Regions from separate parts of the Homo sapiens genome. Here all the other regions are linked to region 2. Evidence: fine-mapped expression QTL. A gene starts in region 2. Each other region holds a variant in brackets. All regions are shown on one strand. Distances are between the middles of the regions. Region 1 has its middle 8.2 kb from the start of ZFP3-DT. Region 2 holds the start of CAMTA2 (calmodulin binding transcription activator 2). Region 3 overlaps MINK1 (misshapen like kinase 1).

Region 1 (10,428 bases), 83 kb before region 2:
TGCTCCATCTACTGAGATAGGGAAAAACTGCCTTAGGGCTGGAGTGGGACCTGCGGGCAGCAATACTGCTTTGTAAAGCATTGAGATGTTTATGTGTATGCATATCTAAAAGCACAGCACTTAATCCTTTACATTGTCTATGATGCAAAGACCTTTGTTCACGTGTTTGTCTGCTGACCCTCTCCCCACAATTGTCTTGTGACCCTGACACATCCCCCTCTTCGAGAAACACCCACAAATGATCAATAAATACTAAGGGAACTCAGAGGCTGGCGGGATCCTCCATATGCTGAACGCTGGTTCCCTGGGTCCCCTTATTTCTTTCTCTATACTTTGTCTCTGTGTCTTTTTCTTTCCTAAGTCTCTCGTTCCACCTTACGAGAAACACCCACAGGTGTGGAGGGGCAACCCACCCCTACACTTGACTGCACATTGGAATCACCTGGGGTCTAAAATCATGGCTGTCTGGTGCCTCCCACATAGACTCTGTTGAAATTGATCTGAAAAAAGATCTGGACGTGGATTGTTTTGCTTTTAACTTTCCAGGTAATTCTGACCTACAGCCATGGTTGAAAACCAATAGCATAGGCCAATGGTTCTCAAAGTGTGGTCTCTAAACCAGCAGCATTAGCATCACCTGGGGACTTGTTAGAAATGAAAATTCTTAGGCCCCACCCACAGATCTTCTAAATCAGAAACTCTGGAGTTGGAGCTCAGAAATGTGTTGTGGCTTTTTTGTTTTGTTTTGTTTGGTTTGGTGGCTGTTGTTTTTTGAGATGGAGTCCACTCTGTCGCCCAGGCTGGGGTGCAGTGGTGCCATCTCAGCTCACCACAACCTCCGCCTCCTGGGTTCAAGTGATTCTCCTGCCTCAGCCTCCCGAGTAGCTGGGATTATAAGTATGCACCACCACACCTGGCTAATTTTTGTACTTTTAGTAGAGATGGGGTTTCACCGTATTGGCCAGGCTGGTCTTGATCTCCTGTCCTCAGGTGATCCACCTGCCTCGGCCTCCCAAAGTGCCAGGATTACAGGTGTGAGCCACCAAGCCCGGCCCAGAAATGTGTGTTTTAACAACACTTCATGGCTCTGATGCACAATAAAGTTTGAGAATCATTGGCCCCAGCTTTGGCAGTGCTTAATCTGACCTGCGCTTGTGTGTGAGTTAGGAAGGAAAAGGATAAGTTGTCTCCTCTCAGCCACTCCCCGGCTCACCGTTTGCTTTATTTTATTTTATTTTGTTTTGTTTTTTGAGATGGAGTCTTGCTCTTGTCGCTCAGGCTGGAGTGCAATGGCGTGATCTTGGCTCACCGCAACCTCCACCTCCGAGGTTCAAGCGATTCTCCTGCCTCAGCCTCCTGAGTAGCTGGGAATACAGCCACGTGCCACCACGCCCGGCTAATTTTTGTATTTTTAGTAGAGACAGGGTTTCTCCATGTTAGTCAGGCTTGTCTGGAACTCCTGAGCTCAGGTGATCCGCCCACCTCGGCCTCCCAAAGTGCTGGGATTACAGCCGTGAGCTACCACGCCTGGCCCACCGTCTGCTTTATTACACTAGCCAACCTAGGTGCCACCTGGAGTAATAGGAATCTACTGAGTGAAGGAGACAAGGACATATGGTTTGTAAATACTGTTCCCACTTTCAGCCTGTATGAGGATGTGTATGACTGGGCAGGGGCTGATGTTTCACGGTCTACTAACAGGTTCAGGACTTCCACAGAATTGGCTTTATAGGTGAGTATGAGCAGTTCTGTTCCTCTTAAAAAAAAAAAAAAAGGTAGATAGGAACACTGACCACCCTCCTGAATTCACACAGAGACAAACACATGGAGAAACCAAAGACACACTGCACTATTTCACCCTTGTCCCTTCTCTTCTATCTGTAGAATATGTGAGAAGGAGGGCTACAGGCACTGGCTGCACTCCTTTCTTACATTTTTATTTTATTATTTTATTATTTTATTTTATTTTATTTTTGAGACAGAGCTTCACTCTTGTCGCCCAGGCTGGAGTGCAATGGTGCAATCTTGGCTCACTGCAACCTCCGCCTGCTGGGTTCAAGCGATTCTCCTGCTTCAGCCTCCCAAGTAGTTGGGATTACAGACATGCACCACCACTCCTGGCTAATTTTTGTATTTTCAGTAGAGACAGGGTTTCGCCGTGTTGGACAAGCTGGTCTCGAACTCTTCACCTCAAGTGATCCACCTACCTCGGCCTCCCAAAGTGTTGGGATTACAGGCATGAGCCACTGCGCCCGGGCTCCGCTTCTTATCACTGCCAGCTGCTTCCTTACTCCTGCCTTTCTTCTTTTAACTAGGCCAACCTCACAGAACATCCTACATACCCAAAGTCTCACTCAATGTGACACAGACGAATCTTGCCTCATGTGATTTAACTATTTCCTACAGACACACAGCTGTCCTTGAGGTCCAGGACCATGTCACATGTCTTTGAGAGTTCTGCAGGAGGCACTGGTGGTGCTGGGCCTCTGTTCAGTGGAAACTTGATGGACAAAAATATTCATATCTCACCTCTGCACAGTAACGTGACTGGCTGAAGCTGAATCAAGGTTCAGTTACATCCTTGGTGTTCCCCCTTACACCTCCAGCTGTGAAGATGTAAGGAAGTAGAGCAAAGGAGCAACTTCCTACTCTGGAGTTAACAATTATACAGATGGTCCCCAACTTAACAATGCTTCAACTTGCAAGTTTTTGACTTTACAACAGTGCGGGAACAATACACATTCAGTAGAAAATATACTTCTTTTTTTTTTTTTTTTTTTTTTTTTTGAGACAGTTTTGTTCTGTTGCCCAGGCTGGAGTGCAGTGGCACAATCTCAGCTCATTGCAACCTCCACCTCCCGGGTTCAAGCACTTCTCCTGCCTCAGCCTCCTGAGTAACTGGAATTACAGGCACATGCCACCACGCCTGGAAAGAGATCAAAATTCAGAATTTGAAGTATAGGCCGGGGGCGGGGGCTCACGCCCATAATCCCAGCACTTTGGGAGGCCGAGGTGGGCAGATCACCTGAGGTCAGGAGTTTGAGACCAGCCTGGCCAACATGATGAAACCCTGTTTCTTTTTTTCTTTTCTTTTCTTTTTTTTTTTTTTTTTGAGATGGAGTCCTGCTGTGTCACCCAGGCTGGAGTGCAGTAGCATGATCTAAGCTCACTGCAACCTCCGCCTCCCGGATTCAAGCCATTCTCCTGCCTCAGCCTCCCAAGTAGCTGGGGTTACAGGCACTCGCCACCTGTAATATTTGTATTTTTAGTAGAGACGAGGTTTTGCCGTGTTGGCCAGGGTGGTCTCGAACTCCTGACCTCAGGTGATCCACCTGCCTGGGCCCCCCAAAGTGCTAGGATTATAGACATGAGCCACTGCACCCGGCCTGAATGCATTTTCAACTTACAAAATGTTCACCTTACGATAGGTTGATCAGGATGTAACCCCATTATAAGTTGAGGAACATCTGTATCAAGGAGGCCAGAGCAACCAATTCTGAACCTGACCCAGCAAGATCACGTTTTTACTGTGCTTGGATGACAGATCCTTCTTGGGCAAGTTCTTTAAGCCTAAGAGGTGCGTTGGGGTCCTGTAAGGTCCATGTCTGTCTTAGGTGAAACCACCGTCCGTTTCACAGTGGGAGAAATGCAGCACCACCCAGAAACCTCAGCCTCCCAAAAACCACCATGAGAGGGAAGACAGAGAAGAAAAGGCTGGCTTAGAGGAGGGGTCAGTACTGGGCTTTGAGAAGGTGAGCGGAAAGTTGAGGTTGGGGGCGTGGTGTGGCACTGAAACTAGACAACAGCAGAGGGTATAGGGAAAAAGTAATCAGAGGACAAAGGAGAAGAAAGCTGCATCCCAGCATATGAGGCTCATCACCAGGAATCTGGAGTCTTAACAAGGTCAGCAAAATAATCGGCAGGATTGCCACCACGGGCAAGACATCACTGAGCCACGTGTAATAATGTTCTTGTCCACTTCTCAGATCCCCAAATGTGCCTTAGAGCCCCACACAGCACAGTATTCCAGGCAGCTGCTACTATTTGTCTGAATTTGCACATGAGTGACGTTATTTGCCATCGCAGGGTCAAGGCAGTCCTATGTGAATATTTCTGAGGCTCTTTTCTGAGAAAATAGGAAGAAAATCAAGTCCCAGGGTCTCCCACATCATAGGGACACATAAGCTCCCAGTGTGACCAGAAAAGCATAAGACTGCCGGAACAACTCCTATTTCTTCACATTTACTTTACTTTACTTTTTTTTTTCTTTTTGAGACAGAGTCACGCTCTTGTCGCCCAGGCTGGAGTGCATTGGTGCCATCTCGGCTCACTGCAACCTCC[G/A]CCTCCCAGGTTCAAGCAATTCTCCTGCCTCAGCCTCCTGAGTAGCTTTATAGTTTCAGGTCTTACATTTGAGTCTTTATTCCACTTTGAGTTGATTTTTGGGTATGGTGCGAGATAAGGCTCTAATTTCATTCTTCGGCATGTGGATAGCCAGTTTTCCTAACACCATTTATTAAAGAGACTGTCAAAAATAAAAATAAAGAGACTGTTTTTTTCTCACTGTGTGTTCTTGGCACCTTTGTTACCAATCAATTGACCACAATTGTTAGATCGATTGGCTCTAACTCTGCTTTCATGGTGTTATTTTCCCAGCTCAAGATGTGGCTCATCAAAAACATCTTCAGGCCGGTGGCTCATGCCTGTAATCCCGATACTTTGGGAGGCCAAGGCAGGCAGATCACCTGAGGTCAGGAGTTCGAGACCAGCCTGGCCAACATGGTGAAACCCCCGTCTCTATAAAAATACAAAAGTTAGCCAGATGTGATGGCGGACGCCTATAATCCTAGCTACTTGGGAGGCTGAGGTATGAGAATCGCTTGAACCCGGGAGGTGGAGGTTGCAGTGAGCCAAGATCGCACCACTATACTCCAGCCTGGGTGACAAAATGAGACTCTGTCTCAAAAAAAAAATAAAAATAAAAATAAAAACATCTTCAGGGAACTACTCAGTCCTCCAACAAGATTCCTTCTCAGTGATGCACCTTTGTCCTTGGGCTGACGCCATCCTCCATACCCCAGTTACTCACTCTTCATACTGTTGTTTTCCATTAGGCCACACACCTGCCCACAATGCTATCCTTGTTCCCACTGCGACTACAAACCATAACTGTGATGATACCTCAGGACCTCTCTCAAATAAAGGGTCCCTTTGTTTCTGGGGCTTAATTCTGTTGCCAACAGCCACAGATTCTCTCTCCGGACAAATCTCGGGATCATGGCCTTCCTCCCTCATTCAAACTCACTCTACCATCTGCAGTAGTGAGTCATTCAAACCATGGTTTTTGATTTCACTATTTTAATGCCATATAAGAAATCTTGAGGTATAGATCTCACACAGGTGAGCAAAATATAGGCTTTGAGTTTGGTTTAAAACAACAATAACAAAAAAAATCCAAACTTTATATGTACCCAACATAGTTTACAAAATCCTCTCATATGTGTTAACTATGGTCAGAGTCCCTTGAAGCTTAGACTGTCTATGGCAACTGTAGATAAGGTATTTGCAGGCAAGGGAGGCCAGAAGTTTAGTGACATGTCAAAGTTTACTCAGATCGAGGCTGGGCGTGGTGGTTCACACCTGTAATCCCAGCACTTTGGGAGGCCAAGGCAGGTGGATCACCTGAGGTCAGGAGTTCAAGACCAGCCTGACCAACATGGAGAAACCCCGTCTCTACTGAAAATACAAAATTAGCTGGGTGTGGTGGCGCATGCTTGTAATCCCAGCTACTTGGAAGGCTGGGGCAAGAGAATCGCTTTAACCCAGGAGGCAGAGGTTGCAGTGAGCTGAGATTGCGCCATTGCACTCCATGCGGGGCAACAAGAGCAAAACTCCGTCTCAAAAAAAAAAAAAAAAGAAGAAGAAGGGAAGAGGTCAGGATTTGCACCTATATCTGCCGATTTCTCATCAGGCTCTTCTCACTACAACCTGATAGCCTTCCTAAAGTCCCACTTAACACACAATCTGCCTCTGCTCCTTTATGGGACCCTGAAGATTCCCAGGCCTGTTTTGCTACTGTTTTTGTTTTGGAGGTTTTTGTTTGTTTGTTTGTTTGTTTTGAGGCGGAGTTTCACTCTTGTTGCCCAGGCTAGAGTGCAATGGCATGATCTCAGCTCACTGTAACCTCTGCCTCCCAGGTTCAAGGGATTCTCCTGCCTCAGCCTTTCAAGTACCTAGGATCACAGGTGCCTGCCACCATGCCCGGCTAATTATTTATTTATTTTTTTTAGGAGAGATGAGGTTTGCCATGTTGGCCAGGCTGGTCTTGAACTCTTGACCTCATGTGATCCACCTGCCTCAGCCTCCCATAGTGCTGGGATTACAGGTGTGAGCCACCGCACCCAGCCTTGCTACTGTTTTGACCATTATTCAGCTAATGGTCAAGATGTGTCCAATTAAATTTTTTAAAATTAATTTAATTTATCATTTTTTTAAAAAAAGACAGGCCTCACCATGATGCCCAGGCTGGTCTCAAACTCCTGGCCTCAAGTCATCTTCCTGTCTCAGCCCTCCAAAGTAACAGGATTACTGTGAGCCACCACACCCAGCCAAAAAAATTTTTCATAAACTACTCAGTCTTCCAACAAGATCCCTTCTTTATGATGAAATCTTTCTCATAGTCAGCTAATGGTCAAAACAGGAAACTTCAAATCTAACATTCAGCAAATCCACATTTGCCTTATGTGTGCATAAAGCATCCCCCTTCTACCAAAATAAAACCCTGTACAATGATGGCGTTTGGGTTACTTAGCTGGCTTCAATACTTGAGTTACTTTAAGACCTCATTCGAAACAAGCACACGCACAAAGCCATCTTGAGTCCTCTCTTCTCACTCCAACCACTCCTCCACTGCCCTTCCTGACTCTTAGCATTTGAGTTAAGTTGACTTGTTGTAGCTTGCGTTGTCTTGTGAGAATATTTGTTTTTCCTTTTTTTTTTAATTTTTTTGAGACAGAGTCTTGCTCTGTTGCCTAAGCTGGACTGCAGTGGCGTGATTTCGGCTCACTGTAACCTCTACCTCCTGGGTTCAACAATTCTGCCTCAGCCTCTCGAGTAGCTGGGATTACAGGCACCCGCCACCACGTCCAGCTAATTTTTGTATTTTTAGTAGAGACGGGGTTTCACTATGTTAACCAGGCTGGTCTCAAACTCCTGACCTTAAGTGATCCACCCACCTCAGCTTCCCAAAGTGCTGAAATTACAGGCGTAAGCCACCATGCCCAGCCATTATAAGAGTATTTTCCATCTCCTCACTCAGTTCTCCACCCTTAGGCATTGCACCTGTGGCACAGAACTGACCAGAGATGGTCTGTACAGGTTGACTGACAAATGCTTACATGGGGCCGGGGCAGTGGCTCATGCCACCCAACATTTTGGGAGGCCAAGGCGGGTGGATCACTTGAGGTCAGGAGTTCAGCACCAGCCTGGCCAACGTAATGAAATCCCATCTCTGCTAAATCCCGTCTTTGCAAAAAATACAAAAAATAGCCGGGTGTGGTGGCACAGGCCTGTAATCCCAGCTACTTGGGAGGCTAAGGCAGGAGAATCACTTGAATCTGGGAGGCAGAGGTTGCAGTGAGCCAAGATCACACCATTGCACTCCAGCCTGGGCAACAAGAGCTAAACTCCATCTCGAAAAAAAAAAAAATCCTTATATGGAAAGTCTTCTGAGATTACCTCGAATTTTAACAGTGACCTTCAAGAAACAGTACCTTAACACAGAAGTCTAATGGCAGGAATTTTAGGCACAGGGTAAAAGTGGTAAAAAGAGCAAAGTAGCCAGCTGACTTTTCAGAGCCCCTCACATCACATTAGATCAATAGGTTTTCTTGGTTGGTTTTTTGTTTTGTTTTATTCTGTTTTTAGACCAAGTCTCGCTCTGTCGCCCAGGCTGGAATGCAGTGGCATGATCTCAGCTCACTGCAACCTCTGCCTCCCGGGTTCAAGCGATTTTCCTGCCTCAGCCTCCCAAATAGCTGGGATTACAGGCGCCCACCACCACACCTAACTAATTTTTGTATTTTTAGTAGAGACAGGGTTTCACCATGTTGGCCAGGCTGGTCTCAAACTTCTGACCTCAGGTGATCCACCTGCCTCAGCCTCCCAAAGTGCTGGGATTACAGGTGTGAGCCACCACACCCGGCTTTTCTTTGAGACAGAGTCTCACTCTGTTGCCCAGGCTAGAGTACAGTGGTGTGATCTTGGCTCACTGCAGCCTCCACCTCCCGGGTTCAAGTAATTCTCCTGCCTCAGCCACCCAAGTAACTGAGATTACAGGCGTGCACCACCATGCCCAGCTAATTTTTGTATTTTTAGTAGAGACAAGATTTCACCATGTTGGCCAGGCTGGCCTTTAACTCCTGACCTTAAGTTATTTGCCCACCTCAACCTCCCAAAGTTCTGGGATTACAGGCGTGAGCCAGCCCCCACCCCCGGCCTCAATAGTTATTTGAATTCAACTTCTGTGTAGGATTGGATGAAAAACACTGACTGACACTAGAGTCCACAATTTTTTTTTCTTTCTTTTTTTCTTTTTTTTTTTTTTTAGAGATGGAGTCTTGCTCTTTTCCAGACTGGAGTACAGCGGCGCAATCTTAGCTCACTGCAACCTCCGCCTCCCGGGTTCAAGCAATTCTCCTGCCTCAGTCTCCTGAGTAACTAGGACTACAGGCTCATGCCGCCACGCCCAGCTAATTTTTTGTATTTTAGTAGAGACGGGGTTTCACCGTGTTGCCCAGGCTGGTCTCGAACTCCTGAGCTCAGTCAATCCACCTGCCTCGGCCTCCCAAAGCACTGGGATTACAGACGTGAGCCACCACGCCCAGCCTCAATAGTTATTTGAATTCAACTTTTTTATAGGATTAGATGAGAAACAATGGCTGACACTAGAGTCCACAATTTCTATATAATATCTGAAGGTCAGAGATCCAAAATGCAGAAACTAGATGACTGACTTATGAGACTGGTTGATCTTGACTGTGGATATTAGAAAACTTAAAATAGGGGAGACTTTCAAATGGAATTGAGGTGAAGTATGTGTGCAACCAGTGTAAGGAGCAGATGTTTGCAGATATTTCTTTTATTTTTATTTTTGAAACGGAATCTCACACTGTTGCCCAGGCTGCAGTACAGTGCTGTGATGTGGGCTCACTGCAGCCTCCAACTCCCAGGCTCAAGTGATCCTCCCGCTTCAGCCTCCTGAGTAGCTGGAGCTATAGGTGTGTGCCACAATGCTCCGCTAATTTTTTGCATTTTTTGTAGAGGTGGAGTCTCCCTGTGTTGCCCAAACTGATCTCAAACTCCTGGGCTCAAGCAATCCTCCTGCCTCTGCCTCCCAAAATTCCAAGATTACAGGCAGGAGTCACCATGACAAGCCTGCAGATATTTCAAATCCATCTGGGTTTCTGCTTCTCCTCATCTTTCTTGTCTCATTAGACATACCTTTTAAACTCTATTTGGCATTTCCTTATTTTTCCATAGGGCCACCCCTGAATCAGCAATTTTGTAAAGTTGTACTCAACCGATGCTCAAAACTAGACTCTTCTCCACTTGTGATTGAGCATGTAATTTGACCTAACAGTGCTGGACCCAAGGAAGTTGAGATTGTTCTTGGCAGTGTCTTTGGTGCCAAAATGTTGGAAGAATCTGGGCCCATTTCCAGCACTAATGGGCAATTGTTGAAAGTCACCAGATCCCACAAGGGTAAAAGCAGCATTACCAGCAGAGATGGACAAACATGTCCAAACTGGGTAAGCAGGTGACATCTCCCATCATCCTAATAATCACTGCTTAATATGGGATGTGGGTTGTAAGAATGACAGGAGACGGGCTGAACCCAGAGGGGCTGGGCTGTGCGGAGACGGATATAAATGATTGTATTAGGACTTTTCAAAATCAAGGGAATTCCCTTCTCTTGACAAGGACTAGGTGTTAAATTATGCAATGCAGTGGACATTTCAGCCTTCTCAGAGAACAAAGAACAGTTCTGCCCCTTTAGTCTCTACTCAAAACAATTGCACCCAACATTCACATATTATTTTGTTTCAGCCCAGCCTTCAGCTTGTGTGACTGGCCAACTGCCCTAAAATCATCTAACACATGAATTCTTTTTATTTTATTTTTATTATTTATTTATTTTTTTTCTTTTGAGATGGAGTTTCACTCTTGTTGCCCAGGCTGGAGTGCAGTGTCACAATCTCGGCTCACTGCAACCTCTGCCTCCTGGGTTCAAGCGATTCTCCTGCCTCAGCCTCCCGAGTAGCTGGGATTACAGGTGTGCACCACCACGCCTGGCTAATTTTTGTATTTTTAGTAGAGATGAGGTTTCTCCATGTTGGTCAGGCTTATTTAATCTCAATTACCTCCTTAAAG
Region 2 (5,238 bases):
CTTCCCTCTGTTATTCCCCAACCAGTGCACTGACCAGGCCTTCCTTTCTATGAATCAGTCATCATGTTTTCGAGATCACAGGGGTCTTCCCAAGACCCCAGACTCCCTACCTAGTTCAATCCAAGCTCCCTTGAGAGAGCCAGTTCTTCTTTCTAGCTCTTTTTCCCCATTCTCTGGCACAGAGAGCCACTGGTTGCTCCCAGCTTGGTCTGTATCCTCCTGAGCAGCTCCCACCCCCTGAAATGCTTTGGAGAAGAAAGAAGAGGAGGCCATGTTTGGAAGGAATGCAGCAGCAGGGCCTTGGGGGAGTCCCCGCCCGGGTGAGGGCTGTCACTTACCACCTGGAGGACCTAAGAAGGCGTCAGAGCATCATCAACGAGTAAGGAAGGGAGACATCTGGGTTCTGGGAGTCATGCAGGATTTGGGGGCAGAACAGTTTGAGCTAAGGAAGGGGTTGACAGCTTTGAGGGGAGGTTTGAGGGGAGCTTTGAGGGGAGGTTGCTTGGAAGGAAGCTGTGGGCTTTGGTGTGATTGAAACAGATTTCTGTAATATGGAAAGAAGGAGGGAACTGCAGTAAGGAGGATGAGCCACATGAGCTGGAAGGAGTGGAAACTAGATCACTGAAGACAGGAAAGCAAACCATAGAACTGGAGGACAGTGGGGAGGTTGGGGTCACCTCTGGGTTCCTAGACAATATGCTTCAGTCTGAGGGGAGCAGAAAATTGGGAGTGGAGGGTTAAAGGTCAAATGACAACTCCCTGGAGTCCCAGCAGGAAGTATTTCAGAACAGAAAGGTGAAGAATGGAGAGACAGGAAGCCTGGCCTCCAGGCACTTCTCTCCTCAGCCTAAAGTCTCCACAGACTGAAGAAGGCCCAGTGGGGCAGCTCTGGGGCTGCATCTGAGCCAGTGGTGCTTGGCGAAGAGGGCTGTGGATTCCCCAGCACCAATGAATACCCTGATCTGGAAGAGGAGAGAGCAACCTATCCACAGGAAGAGGACCGTTTTCTCACTCCTGGCAGGGCCCAGGTATTGTTGGAGTGGAACTGGGTGGAGTGAGGGAGTGATGTGGGTCTCTGGTCTTGCATGGAGATGCAGAAGCTGAGAGCCAGGCTGGAGAGCTGGATTTGAGAGAAACAAAAATAACGTAGGTGAGAACCAGAGACTTCGAGGTACCTAAGCTTGGGTACTAGGAAATCTGGAAAGAAGACCTACTTTTCCATTTTCTTTTTCAATTTCTCTCATCTTGACAGCTGCTTTGGTCTCCCTGGAGCCCCCTGGATCAGGAGGAGGCTTGTGCCTCCAGGCAGCTGCACTCTCTGGCCTCGTTCAGCACTGTCACAGCCAGAAGGAACCCCCTTCACAATCCCTGGGGGATGGAGTTGGCAGCGTCTGAAGAGTAAGGAGAAACCACCGATGCCGAGAGGCTAGTGGTGCCCCAGGGACCCAAGACTAGTTCCGTCACTAGAGTCACCCTCATTGCTGACATGAAGGCGTTTCCCCTTCCTTCGTCTCTCCAACTGCCTTTCCCATCCTCTGAACTAGGCATTAACAGCCCCCGTGGGCTCCCATCTCAACCCACCGCTCTCACAGGAGCACCCCAAGTCCTGTTTTCCTCCAGGCCCCGCTCCTGGCCTTGTATTCTCTCTGCTCTGTTATTAAAAAGCAAGCAAGTGGAGCCCGAGTTGTCTTTCTTCTTGGGATGCAGCGATGGAGAGGCCAATGGGGAAGGAGGGCTCCTTTCGCTTTCTCGAGGACCCAGCTACAATGAAGTCGGGCTGGGTCCCCAGACAAGGAGTCTTGTCCGAGGCGAGAAGGGTCCTGCTCCCAGTCCAGCGTTCCTCGCCCGGCCCCTCGGGTTCCAGCACTGGTGGGCTGCCCCCGCCCCGTTCTCTCGAACTGGGAGTCAGTCGGCCGAGCTTCCGCCTCCAGGACCCTGGAATCCTGCCCCTCAGTGCTGCTGCCCTTTTGGGGACTTCCCAGCAGTCTGTCCCTCGGCCTGGCTCAGAGCCCTAGAAGCCGAGTCCCTCTGCCCAGCGCCCCACCCAGAACTCCACGTGTGCTGACCCCAGGTTCCCTTCCTGACCCTCATCCCCTTAATTGGGAGGCCCCGCCCCGTGCGCAGTGACGTTAGACGCCGCTGTCAGCCGGCGCTGGGGGGGGTCGGTGTGGGGTAGAATGGCCGCTGCCGCCGTCACCCGCGGGACCCCGGGAGGTAAGAGCCAGGGCCTCTCGCCCGCCTCTCCGCCCCCGCGCCAGAGGGCGCAGCTCCTCCAGGTCCCGACGCGGAGCGCCGCGCCAGGGACCACCGTCCCTCTTCCCGGTTCGCCCTCACCTCCCGCTTCCGTCCTCCTCCCCCGCGCCAGGGGGCGCCGCTCACCGCAGGGCCCCACGGCGGACCAGCGCGTGCCGGGGACTGTCCCGGAGACCCCCGCACCCGGCACCTGCACTGTCCCTCGCCCACCGCGTGCCCGCGGACTCTGCTCCCGGCTTCTCCAGAACATCCCTCTATGCGGGCGGGACCCTCCCACCTCGGAGGTTCTCCTGGGACCACCACTCCGCCGGGGGGCCGCCCAGAGTGCCAAGCGTCCGATCCGGCGCCGCCCAAGTGCAGCCCAAGGACCCGCTCCCGCTCCGCACCCTGGCAGGCTGCCTAGCCAGGACTGCGCACCTGCGCCCTGGGGCGGAGTCCTTACCCCAACCCCAGCTTCACTGCACATAGCCGAGCCCGACGGGCCTCCTCCCATCTCCATCCTGGACACCTGGCGGAGCCCGTGCTGAGAGCCTCCGCCAGCTCCCATCTGTTCCCCGAGGAGGGCGGGGGGCTCAGGCTGGAGCCAGAGCGGTAGATGGGGTAGGCTAGGCCTGGAGGCCAGGGGAGGCAGAGGCGTTTGGGGAGAGGGAGCTACGTAGAGAGGGCTGTCAGCCGGAGGGTGGGTTGTCCTGAGGGTGGGAATCTGGGTGTCTGGCCCAGATTCTATCAGGTCCTAACCAACCTGGAGGAGAGAATAGGTTAGGTTCAGTTATCAGATCTGCCCTTCCCCTTGGAAAAATCAAACAGAGAAGGAACTCAGGGCGTGTCTTCTAAAGGCCTAGCTTCTACCGGAGGTAGAATCTCCTGCCCTGCCCCCAGGATCCAGGCTCTCTTGCCAAACCATCCTCCAAGGACCGGATGGCCTGAGTCCCAACCCCCAGGACCTGACCCAACCATAGCCCCAGTCTGTGCAAAAGCTCAAGGTTTAGGGCCTCTGAGGCCCAAGCCCTGCCAGTCTTCTCCCCGCTCCCCCACCCCAACCCATTTCTTCCTGCTCACTCTTCCTGTCCAGTCTGCTCACTCATATTGGCTCCGGGCACTGTGTGTTGTTCTCTCTTCTACTGTCACATCACAGTCAGCCCCTCCCTCCCTTTCCTCATCCTTCCCAGATACTATGACCCAGTTCTATACCCACTCCCTACCTCATACTTCTCATCCTGGATTAATGTGGGGGCTTCTGCCATGACCTTGTTCTCTCCCTTCCCAGCACAGACTCCCCCTCCCCCCGGCCCCTCAGGCCGGGGGTGACCTTGCCCCCTGGAGCCCTCACCATGAATACCAAGGACACCACCGAGGTTGCTGGTAAGTTCACAAACCAGGTTCCCAATGTGGCCACAGCCTTTCGTTCTCCCCACGCTTTAGTGGCCCTCTAATTCTTGGATTTTCTGTTCTCCTTAGTGAGGTTTCAGTTTTCCCCAGTGCTCTGTATTGCCTTCAGCCCTTTCCCCTTGGACTATCACAGGGATGCCCCAGGGTAGCACACTAAACCCTCCCTTCTAATTCCCTTTAGAAAACAGCCACCACCTGAAGATCTTTCTCCCCAAGAAGCTGCTGGAGTGTCTTCCTCGCTGCCCGCTGCTGCCTCCAGAGAGGCTACGGTGGAATACAAATGAGGTTTTCTAGGGAGGCTGGGGGTTGGGGCCCAGCAAGACCTAGTAGGCTGGAGGAGGGTGAGTGGGGGGTCTTTCCGTGTCTGTCAACACTCCTAAGTGCAGAGCACCATTCTAAGCTCTTTGGGGATCCTAGGAGAGGTATAAAAACATGGATCTTGGCCGGGCATGGTGGCTCATGCCTGTAATCCCAGCACTTTGGGAGGCTGAGGCGGGTGGATCATCTGAGGTCAGGAGTTCAAGACCAGCCTGGCAAACATGGTGGAACCCCGTCTCTACTAAAAATACAAAAAGCAGCCAGGCGTGGTGATGTACGCCTGTAATCCCAGCTACTCGAGAGGCTGAGGCGGGAGAATTACTTGAGCCAGGGAGGCGGAGGCTGCAGTGAGCTGAGATCACGCCACTGCACTCCAGCCTGGGTGACAGAGTGAGACTCCGTCTCAAAAACAAAAACAAAAAGACATGGATCTTGAAGGAGCCCTCTTTTCTGTGGCATAGCCACCTGGGTAAAAACAAAAGCTACTGCCAGTAAAGTATTCCTTACATACTGGGCACCGTGCTAAACATTTGGCCTGCCTTGTCTCATTTAATCCTCTAACGGTTCTATAGAGCAAGCCCTGTTATTGCTCCTATGTTATTGATGAGGAAACTGATTTACCTCATAGTTTATCTAACTTACTCCAGGGCCTTTTTTTTTGAGACGGAGTCTCGCTCTTGTTGCCCAGGCTGGAGTACAATGGCGCGATCTTGGCTCACTGCAACCCCCGCCTCCTGGATTCAAGTGATTCCCCTGCCTCAGCCTCCCAAGTAGCTGGGATTACAGGCATGTGCCTCCACGCCCGGCTAATTTTTGTTTGTTTTTTTTTTGAGATGGAGTCTCGCTCTGTCGCCCAGGCTGGAGTGCAGTGGCGCGATCTCGGCTCACTGCAAGCTCTGCCTCCCAGGTTTACGCCATTCTCCTGCCTCAGCCTCCGGAGTAGCTGGGACTACAGGCACGCCACCACACCTGGCTAATTTTTGTATTTTTAGTAGAGATGGGGTTTCACTATGTTGGCCAGGCTGGTCTCGAACTCTAGACCTAGTGATCCGCCCATCTCGGCCTCCTACAGTGCTAGGATTACAGGCATGAGCCACCACGCCCGGCTGGAACCTTTGTTATTAACCACCACTGATACTGGCTCTTTCTGGAGGAGGCACAGTCCTTGTGTTACACATTTTCTGTATTCTGCATACTTACTGCCTTGTATGTAGTTGGTTGTTGATATTTATCAATTTGATGTCAGAAGAGGACTGTCAGTAAAACGATGCGTGTATG
Region 3 (10,428 bases), 100 kb after region 2:
GTTTAAGCCTCACCTCTGAGAGGTGAGCTCCCCCACTTTGATGGATGAGAAAACTGAGGTTCAGGGGAGTTAGTGAATACGTCCAGGGTTATGAAGCCGGATGATGGTGGAGCTGCGGTTCTAACTGGCAAAGTCTGCCCCTTAGCGCTCCCAAAACACCCTGGGCGTTTCTCCGTTCCCACGCTCCCCACAGGGATCGATGCCACCCCTCCACGTCGCGTCCTCAGCTGGACGGCTGACCCCGGCAGGGCAGCGCCCTGGCTTTCTCTCGCTTCCCGCCCTGCACTCTTCCTCCATGTGGCCTGCCCCTTCACTGCCCTCCTTCTCTTCATGACTAGCTCTCTGCTTTTCCCTGGGCCTGCAGAACTGTCCTTACCTTGGGTGGGGCCTCGTTATCTGGGCGGACCCAGGCTGGGGGATTCGGGCTGGGGCCAGGTCCTTCAGAGGTGGGGTCTGAATTCTGGCGGATGACAGCTCCTCGGGCACTGGGCGTGGCAGTGGGTGCGGGGATGGCAGGGTCGGGGTCATGGGAGGCTGGGAAGGCAGCCAGGTTTCGGGTGGGCTGGTCCTGCAGGGACTGGGATCGGGGTACAGGTGCTGCATATGGCTTCAGTGGGACCCGGTGTGCCACCAGGCTCTGCAGGGAGAGACCAGGGAGGGTGGGCTGCCTGCTCCATGGCACATCCCCACCTGCGAATTGGGGTCTGGGGTGGGAAAGGACTTTAGCTGCCCCTTCCTCCATTGAAGGACAAGGGGTTCCTTGAGCCTGATGACAGCTAAGTCAGGACAGACACAGGCAGCAAGAAGCAGGTGAGTGAGTCTGTCCACAAAGCCTGTGCTCTGTAATCCTGGCTCACGGCTGAGCAGGTGTGTGTGTGTGTGTGTGTGTGTGCGCGCGTGTGTGTGTACCTGTGCTCTGAACAAAGCTCCCTGTGTCTTCATTAAGACAGGGGTGGGGAGAGACTCACCTTGTGCGGTCCCTCCTGGGGCTCCACCGGCCTCTGCATAGGAGGAGTCTGGGAAAGGGGTCCTGGGGGCCCTGGGGAGGCCTGGGGGATGGGGGGCTCAGGCCCCGTGCTGCCTGGCTTGCTCTTGGCCAAGGGAGAGTTCTGCTGCTTGTTCATCCTTGTTCTCTCTTCTACCTGTGATGTGAAGGGATGTCAAGCAGGCCAGCTCTTGCCTCCCTGTTCTCAAAACTGAGGGTCCCACCTGCCCTAACTACTCCCGCCCTATGCTCTGTGCTGTGTGCTCCTTTCCCCTACTTGGTGCCTGCTACTGTGAACTACTACTTCTTGTGGCTCTCCAGGCCTCAGGCAGTGGGACTGCAGTCTCAGGAGGCAAAGGAGGCAGTGAGTACCTCTCGGGCCCAGGCTGGTTTGTCAGCGGGATTCATGCCCCGACCATAATGGTACAGGGGCTTCCTGTCCCCAGGCAGGAGCTGCTGCTGCTGCTGTTTCTGAAGCTGCTGCTGCTGTTGCTGCTGCTGCAGGGACTTGAGGTAGGCATGCTCCTGCTGCAGCTGCCTCTGGAGACGTTCTGACTGCCGCTGCTCCTCCAGCTGCTTCCGCTTGTATTCCTGGGCCCAAGGGTAGGGAGAGAGGGCTCAGCAGGGTGTGGCCCTGGGAGTTAGAGCAGGCATGCCCTCTCTTTTCTCCAACTGCCTAGAGAGGAGATGTATTCCCTTGATGTCCTGGGTGAATCCCTTCCCTTGAAGTGTTCCCATCCCGTTCCAGCAAAGAAGCTCTGAAAAGCATCTTCCCAGAGGACGCTGAGGGACCCGTTACCAGCAGCAGGGCCTGTTCCTGGAGCAGCTGTTGCTGAAGGATCTCGAGCTGTCGCTGCTCCTCCTCTAGCCTGTGACGAATATATTCCTGGGGGACGGGGTGTGGGGTGGGGGGCAGAGGGCAGGGAAGGAGGAAGAGGCAGAGGAGGGCAGCAGCAGCGAGTTGGAGAAGGAGGAAGGGATCCGCAGGAGAATGAGGGGGTGCAGGGGAAGAGTAAGAGAGAGGTAGGGGAGGGGATGACATGAGCCCCAGGGGGCCATGCGGCACAGATGGGGAAGAAGAGGGCACAGGGAATGAGGGGGGATGAGGAAGGGGTCGGGGAGTCAGGGATGGGGTAAAGAGATGGGAATGAGGCAGGGAAGGAAGAGGGAGGGGGTCAGGGTTGGGGTTGAAGGGTGGGAGAAAACAGAGAGAAAGAGTGAAGCTAGAAAAGATAGGAGGAATCTGGGGGTGGGGGAGAGAAGGGGGAAGGGCACGGGGAGCAGGGGCGGCAGGCAGCAGGAGCGGGAGGGCGGGAGGGCAGGGATGCGGGTGCGGCGCTCTACCTGCTCGCGCTCCGCCTGCCGCCGCTCCTCCTCCCGCCGCAGAGCCTGCATGTCCTCCAGCCGCCGCTGCTGCTCCTTCTCCTGCAGCTTCCGCTGCTCCCGCTCCCGCCGCTGTTGCTGTGGGGAGAGCCAGGTGGTCTTAAGAACCATACCGGACATCGCGTCAGCACTGCCCCTCCATGGACAGGGAGGGGAGCCCTCCTTGCTCACCACGGAGGGTGGTAAGAGAGACCGGCTTCCGCTTGTTTCTGCAACTATACCCATCCCCACCCAAGGGCCCGCGGGGCTGGGCTCGGGTAAACAGCCGGTAGCTGTGACGAGAGAGGCTGTGAGACTGACTGCTGCCTGTGGGGTGGGCTTAGCTAGACAACACCTTCCACTCCCCACACCCCACCAAACAACAAACCAAAGCCGAACTCAAAACAAGCCTCCCCAGCACTCCTAGCCTAAAATCGACCTTTGCCTGAAGTCCATATAGAGCGGGTCGTAGTGATAGCCTTTGGCCACAAGAGGGCACCAGGTGCCCGTGCACAGAAAGCACAGAAAAGAGGGACCTGGCCCACTCCTTGACAAGCACCAGTGCCCAGGTGGTACTTTACTTTCACGGTATTTCTGTGGTGGCTTTCACGAAGTCTACCACCACCACCACCAACAAAAGCACAAACCCTGAGGGACCCTTACACTTGAGGGAACTTGTGCCTACTTCTGCAATGAAGTTGCCAGCAGGCCTTCTCCAGGTAACACCTTGTTAGATAGGACTCTGTGGCTGGGCGCGGTGGCTCACACCTGTAATCCCAGCACTTTGGGAGGCCGAGGCAGGTGGATCACCTGAGGTCGGGAGTTCGAGACCAGCCTGACCAACATGCAGAAACCCTGTCTCTACTGAAAAAAATACAAAATTAGCCGGGCGTGGTGGCGCATTCCTGTAATCCCAGCTCCTCAGGAGGCTGAGGCAGGAGAATCACTTGAACCTGGGAGACGGAGGTTTTGCGGTGAGCCTAGAGTGCGCCACTGCACTCGTCACCCTGGGCAACAAGAGCAAAACTCCATCTCAAAAAAAAAAAAAAAAAAAAGATAGGACTTTGTTACTATACTATCTGAACGCTATATTTATTTTATTTTTTTATTTTTTGGAGACGGAGTCTTGCTCTGTTCCCCAGGCCAGTGGCGTGATCTCAGCTCACTACAACTTCCACCTCCCAGGTTCAAGCGATTCTCCTGCCTCAGCCTCCTAAGTAGCTGGAACTATAGGCGCGTGCACCACCACGCCTGGCTAATTTGTGTATTTTTAGTAGAGATGGGGTTTCACCATATTAGACAGGCTGGTCTCGAACTCCTGATCTCACGATCCGCCCCCATCCTCCGACTCCCAAAGTGCTGGGATTACAGGCGTGAGCCACCTCACCTGGCCTATATTTTCAAAACTGCACAAGGCTCTTCTGTAGCAGGTTTTCTTGCAAATTATTTTTTGTTCAACAATGAGAGGGCCTACTTTGGAGGTAGCAGGTGGACAGTGTGGGTGCTGCGGGTTATTGCTTATTATTATTAGAGACGGAGTCTTGCTCTGTCACCCAGGCTGGAGTGCAGTGGTGTGATCTCTGCTCACTGCAACCTCCGCCTCCCGGGTTCAAGCAATTCTCCTGCCTCAGCCTCCGGAGTAGCTGGGATTACAGGCATGCGCCACCACACCTGGCTAATTTTTGTATTATTAGTAGAGATGGGGTTTCACCATGTTGGCCAGGCTGGTCTCAAACTCCTGACCTCAGGTGATCTACCCACCTCAGCCTCCCAAAGTGATGGGATTACATTTTGTGTTAAGTCCAGCTCATCATGAAATTTGAAATCATATAATTGTTTCAACAGAAATGCCATTCATTTAAGGCATTTTAAAACCTGTTCTCCAAGGCCCTAATGGACCCGGGGCAGGTCAGGAGGAGGCCGCGCCAGGCCTGGGCCCTTCGGAGACAGCCCACCTCCTCCACGCGGCGCCGCTCCTCCTTCTGCTCCTCTATGCGCCGCTGCCGCTGGTGCAGCAGGTGTTTGATGTGTGCCTCGGGGTCTCGCTGCTGCTGCTGCTGCAGCTGCTGCTGCTGTTTTAAAGCCTCTGAGTTGCTCTTATTTTCCTGCTGGAGCCGGAGAAACTCCCGGCGTAGAGTCGACTCTCCAGGCACGTTCATGATGGAGCTGGGCAGGGGTGGCACAAAGAAGCACTGGGGTCAGAACCCTGTTGGTTCCCACTCTCAACCCCGTGGGCCCGCCTGAGTGGGTGCTTTAACTGGATCAAAGCCTCTGCCTCTGGCCACTCCCAGGTGGCCAGGAGACTTACCGTCCCCTTCTGCCCAGTCTTCAGTCCTGTCCTCCTTTCCTATTACTGCTGCGCCCCACATTCACCACAAATTGCTCTCTCCCCAGCTCTTGCTCAGTCATTGGTTCCACTTCTTAGCACTCAGAAATTTGGTTTCCAGGAGTCTCTACCTCTCTGTGCCCACCACCCCCAGGCTGAGAGTCCCCAAAGCCAAGCACCACTGTAGTCCCCCCACTCAGCGATGACCGCCCCAACCCCCACTCCACCTGCCAGGCCTACCTTGGCTCTCCTTCCTCTCCATGGCTGTCATCTTCCTCCTCGCTGCCGCTGTACTCATATTCTGTCTCCTCTGCAGGGGGAGGCCACTGCAGTTATCTCACCCAGCGCCCCAGACCCGCCGTGGGCTAGGGAAACCTTGGGTGGGGATAACCAGGTCTCTCTGGCTGGGCAAGCATGAGGGGCCCCACCCACTTCCTGGGGGCAATGGGAGGACAGCGGGTCTCAGGTGTGGGCCTGGACAGGACCGGGACTGGGTCCCAGGGCAGCTGAGGTGTGGCAGAGCCTGTGCTTGTGCTCGCACACACATGTGCTTAGCATGGAGTTTTTGTAAGGATGCGAAAGGCCGGTCCTCCTTTGGAAGGCTGATTCAGACTGGGAGGGAAAGGAGGGAAAACCCCTTGGGGGTTGCAAGTTTGAGAACGATCTCCTTGGACAGGGAGAGCTGGGGCCAAGGAGGGGAGCAGGAAGGGGTGCCAGGAGCGAGCAGGGCTGGCAGAGAGGAGCCAGGCTGGAGTGTCCCCTAGTACCTGCCCC[CT/T]CCAGCCTGCCCACTGACCTTTCTCACCCCGCTTCTTCCGGGATCGGTCAATGTGGTCCTTAAGCTGGATGCGGACCTGCCGCTCCGTGGGCTGGTCCCGGATGAAGGGAAACTTCAGTAGCTGCTCCGTGGGTGGGCGGCTCAGGTAAGTCTTGATGAGACATGTGTCAATGAAGTCAATGAACTTCTTAGACCTGGAAACAGTGGTGGCTCACACTGGGAGGGTCCCCTCAGAAGGGATGGGTGCAGGAGGAAGAGGGTGGATCATTCATCCACAAGCCACCTTGACGTCCCTCCTGTCTTCATATCCCAACACCAGTCACCGCCCTCTGCCCCCCAGAATCTCTTCTCTGGTGAGATCCAAGCCTGAGCACAGAGGGCATGAAGGTGGGGATGGCCTTGTCCAGGGACCTTCCTTCCCAGAGCCCACACTCTCAGAGACCTACCACTTCTTGGACTTGAGCCTGGGCGGAGGGTTCCGAGGAATGAGGAAGAGGGCTCGCATGGGGTGCATGTCACACAGAGCTGGACACAGAGGAGACACCCTCAGTCCCTTTCACTGCACTGGGAGCTACAGGACCCTTCCTCGGCAGGGTCCCAGGACCCACCTCCTCCCTACAGCCACTCTCTGGGCCCTTCCTTTCCCTCCCCTCCCACTCCCGGCAGACTCAGAACTTACGGGGGGCTCCCTCTGCCATCTCGATGGCTGTGATTCCTAGAGACCAAATATCACTCTATAGACGGGAAAGAAGGAACAAGTGAATATTCCTGACAACTCTGCCCTGCAACCTCTCTTCACCCACCATCCTGGCCTCTCAGGAGCCTTCCTGGGCCACACCCATTCCTGCAGCAGTGCCTTCCAACCCATCCCATCTTCCCACCCACACTTGCCTTGCCGTAAGATGTTCCCCAGCCCCTCACTGCTAACATCATCTGACCTTCCTCTGTTCCCCAGCCTGCTCAGGCCCCGTGGTCCCCATATTGCTTCCCGCCCTTGGCAGCCCCCATGCTCCCAACTTTCCACTCCATACCCTGTAATCATAGGTGGCATCAGGGTTCTCATCACAGGCGATGACCTCTGGAGCCATCCAGTAGGGAGTCCCAATGAAAGTGTTCCGTCTGCCCACGGTGCGGTCCAGCTGAGCACTCACCCCAAAATCCACTGTGAAGACACAGAGGGAGGGGTCAGTGTGGGGAGTCACCTCTGCTCCCTTGCCTCACATCCCTGCGTGCACACACAGGACTTGCCTGAGCCAGCTGTGGTCCTGGCCCGACCCAGACACCCCAGCACCCTCCTTTACCCCACCACCATCCTGAAGAACCCGATTCCATCTTCCAGCATCTTAGAGAAAAACCCAGGTAAAAGGATCACGGACAGCATCCCAGGCAGGAGGGCCATCAGATCCCATCTCCCCAGAGCAACCTGCAGAGCACCTGGCCCGTAACAGGTGACAGGTGAAGAGCTTCCTGAGGGATTTTCAGCAGGAGGCAGGGCATTCCAGGGGGAGAGGGGAAAGGGGAGGGAGTGAGCCTCCCCAGTAGGAAGGGAGTTGGGCCTGAGCCACCAGAGAGAAAAAGGGGCCCCTCATTCTCTGTTCTGGAGGTGAAAGGTCCTCGTCAGCCTCAGAAGGAGCCGGCGCACCTAGCTTGACCTCAGCATTCTCTGTCAGCAGCACATTCTGCCCCTTGATGTCTCGATGGATCACCTTGTGGGCATGGAGATGGGCCAGACCCTGGGACAGGAGAGCAGGGAAAATTAGCCATGGTGTTGGATGGGGTAGGAAAGAGTAAGTGGGGAGTGAGTTGAGGGGACAAGGAGCAGTCAGTCTGGACAGGGCTGGGCTGAAGGAGCAGACCTTCTCCACCAGGAGCCCAAGCAAGCTGAGCTGTCCTGGAGAGCTTCCTCAGAGAGGTGGCTCCAGGTGAATTCCCAGCAGTTGCAGGGTTACAGGTGGAGAAGCGGCAGAGCTTGGAAACAGGAGCTTGTCTCCTCCAACAGCCTGAGACTTCCCAAGGTGTGGACCCTGCTTCCACATCCCACCCGCATCAGGCCTGCTGCTCCCTAAAGAGGGCAGTGATGTCTCCTCCCAGCGCAGGGAGGATCTTTGCTCATGGAGAAACTCCAGCCAGGGTAGCGGAGGAGAAGACAAGGGGAGGGGCCTTGAGCTCACCCTGAGGATCTCCCTGCAGATATAGGCGATACAGTCCTCCTTCAGGGCGTTGCCTTTTGTGTTCTTTACCAGGTCAGTCACTGAACCAGCACCACAGAACTCCATCACCAGCTAGGATCCCAGGAAGGTACCGAAAGGAAAAGTATCAGTCAGACAAGCCCTCCCACCCCTGCCCCAATCCCCTGCTAGACTCCTGGAGGAGGATAAGAGACCTTGGGGTTAGAACTGGTATGAGCTAGAGAGCAAGGGCCACAGAAGCCTCACAAAGGCCACAGGATTTCCTCAAGTCAAGACAGAGAGGGAAAAAGGCTGGGTGCGGTGGCTCATGCCTGTAATCCCAGCACTTTGGGAGGCTGAGGCAGGCGGATCACCTGAGGTCAGGAGTTCAAGACCAGCCTGGCCAACATGGTGAGCAAGACTCCGTCTCAAAAAAAAAAAAAAAAAAGAGGAGAAGGAATACAGATGGAAAAGAACTGGCAGGGTGGGGCTGGGTTTAGAGTAGGAGTCCAAGGAATCCCTGAAACTGTAAACAAAATGATGCAGGTATATGCATTTTCCCTGAGGAAGGGTCTAGTACTTTCATCAGATTCTCATTGGGATTCCAAACCCTACAGCGGTTAAGAACTACTGCTTTATGGCTGGGCGCGGAGGCTCACTCCTGTAATCCCAGCATTTTGGGAGGCCGAGGTGGGTGGATCACAAGGTCAGGAGTTCAAGACCATCCTGGATAACACGGTGAAACCCTGTCTCTACTAAAAAAAAAAAAAAAAAAAAAGTAGCCGGGCGTGGTGGCGGGCTCCTGTAGTCCCAGCTACTTGGGAGGCTGAGGCAGGAGAACGGCGTGAACCCGGAAGGCGGAGCTTGCAGTGAGCTGAGATTGCGCCACTGAACTCCAGCCTGGGTGACAGAGTGAGACTCTGTCTCAAAAAACAAACAAACAAAAAACCCAAAACAAAATACTACTGCTTTGGGCCGGGCTCAGTGGCTCATGCCTGTAATCCTAGCACTTTGGGAGGCCAAGGCGGGCGGATCATGAGGTCAGGAATTCGAGACCATCCTGGCTAACATGGTGAAACCCCATCTCTACTAAAAATACAAAAAATTAGCCGGGCGTGGTGGTGGGCACCTGTAATCCCAGCTACTCAGGATGCTGACACAGGAGAATCGCTTGAACCTGGGAGGCAGAGGTTGCAGTGAGCCGAGATCGCGCCGCTGCACTCCAGCCTGAGTGACAGAGCAAGACTCTGTCTCAAAAAAAAAAAAAGGAACTTCTGCTTTGGATCAGGGCTGGCCCAAGGCCTGCTTCTATATGGTCAGCAAGTCAAGAATGGTTTTCACTTTTTTTTTTTTTTTGAGACAGGGTCTTACTCTGTCGCCCAGAGTGGAGTGCAGTGGCGCGATCTCAGCTCACTGCAACCTCCGCCTCCCAGGTTCAAGCGATTCTCCTGCCTCAGCCTCCCAAGTAGCTGGGATTACAGGCGCATGCCACCACGCCCGGCTAATTTTTGTATTTTCAGTAGAGACGAGGTGTCACCGTGTTGGCCAGGCTGGTCTTGAACTCCTGACCTCAGGTGATCCTCCTGCCCCAGCCTCCCGAAGTGCTGGGATTACAGGCTTGAGCCATTGCGTCTGGCCTGGGTTTTACATTTTTAAATGGTTGCGGGAAAAAACAAAAAAAGGAATCCTAAATGACATGTGAAAGTGTAAAACATTGAAACGTGAGTGACCGCAGTGAGGGTGCTGGGGTTATAGCCACACTCATTCGTTTACGTACTGACTATTGCTGCTTTCGTGGTACAACAACAGAACCGTGTAGCTGGGACAGCAAATATGACCCGCAAAGCCTGAAATATTTACCATCTGGCCCTTCACAGAAGAAGTTTGCCAGTCCCTGACTTAGAAGCAGAAAGGGGGCTAAGAAATAGTGATTCTCTAGGTCTGCTAGAGACATAAAGATTGCATAGGGTCTACCTCGACAGCTGCAACAGGGAACCTGGGAAGACCCTGAGAGAAACTCCTCCAGCACAGAGAGTAACAAGGCCAGGAGATGAGGAGGGCTCTGGGTCTGCACCTCCCAGGGAGAGCAGCTGAGACCCGCAGGCAGAGAAGATGGCTCCAACCAGTCTTCCTGGAAATCAGCATGCTTGTCCAAGTTTTCACTAAAAGCCACATCCAATGCAGGAAAAGGTTGGGTGGACACATATATTTGCATATGCAATAAAAGTAATTTGCATGTGCCTATTCCTTGGAGAGCAGAGCACAGTGAGAGGAGGGGAGGACCTGTGCCCAACAGGTCCAGAAGGGGGCGCCCGGCCACTAATGCCTCTAGCCTGCCGCGATCTCCACCACACACACCTGGCAGGTAGACCTCCCTGTCACCTTTCTCCCTTTCTTTGTGTGCATGAGTGTGTGTGTTCCCAAAAAGCCAAAGGGCCTTGGAGGCCAGGACCATGGCTCATGCTCATCTATACAGAGTATACAGAAGTGCTTAGTAAGTGCTTCTCTGAATGGCTGTTGGGAGGGGAGACCTGGCGTCAGCGCCAAAACTCCCGACAGCCATTGCCACACTCCCTGCTGCTCCATCCTCAGGGACTGGGCTCAGTACCACAAAGGGTGAGGCTGGGGGAACATGTCAGCACCAGTGCCCAGGCTAGGGAGGGGAATGACTCTTAGGAATGTTCTGGGCCAGGCAGGAGGAATTTGGGGGAGGCCCCAAGCTCTGCAGCAGGCTCTGTTTTGAATGATGACCCAGAAGGGCTGGGTGCTCTGTAGCATCTGGGGTTCTGGGAGGGGTCTGGGCCCTGTTATC

Evidence for each region. PIP is the estimated chance that this variant, and not a neighbour inherited with it, causes the effect.
Region 1: its variant is fine-mapped to the expression of CAMTA2 in whole blood (INTERVAL, PIP above 0.99).
Region 3: its variant is fine-mapped to the expression of CAMTA2 in whole blood (TOPMed, PIP above 0.99).

What each region holds. Positions count from the first base shown.
Region 1 is chr17:5,064,672-5,075,099 of GRCh38, reverse strand. No RefSeq gene overlaps it. Among named protein-coding and RNA genes, the nearest start is that of ZFP3-DT, 8.2 kb to the left of the region's middle. The variant G/A (reference allele first, on the strand shown) is at 4,342.
Region 2 is chr17:4,984,569-4,989,806 of GRCh38, reverse strand. It overlaps CAMTA2 (calmodulin binding transcription activator 2), which reads left to right and starts at 2,132. Exons shown (of 23, transcript NM_015099.4): 1 at 2,132-2,214; 2 at 3,521-3,615; 3 at 3,824-3,927. The coding sequence starts at 3,585. It overlaps INCA1 (inhibitor of CDK, cyclin A1 interacting protein 1), which reads left to right. Exons shown (of 7, transcript NM_001394789.1): 5 at 183-379; 6 at 863-1,028; 7 at 1,253-1,677. The coding sequence ends at 1,402. CAMTA2-AS1 (CAMTA2 antisense RNA 1) reads right to left here and starts at 2,063. Exons shown (of 3, transcript NR_187235.1): 1 at 1,582-2,063; 2 at 1,215-1,391; 3 at 1-1,120. RefSeq lists a silencer at 2,113-2,652.
Region 3 is chr17:4,881,665-4,892,092 of GRCh38, reverse strand. MINK1 (misshapen like kinase 1) reads right to left here. Exons shown (of 32, transcript NM_153827.5): 5 at 7,620-7,730; 6 at 7,091-7,181; 7 at 6,480-6,610; 8 at 6,128-6,182; 9 at 5,895-5,973; 10 at 5,467-5,642; 11 at 4,914-4,983; 12 at 4,303-4,513; 13 at 2,330-2,446; 14 at 1,358-1,576; 15 at 969-1,142; 16 at 377-637. It also overlaps the pseudogene RN7SL784P. Among named protein-coding and RNA genes, the nearest start is that of C17orf107, 13 kb to the left of the region's middle. RefSeq lists an enhancer at 9,749-9,798 and a silencer at 9,979-10,028. The variant CT/T (reference allele first, on the strand shown) is at 5,448.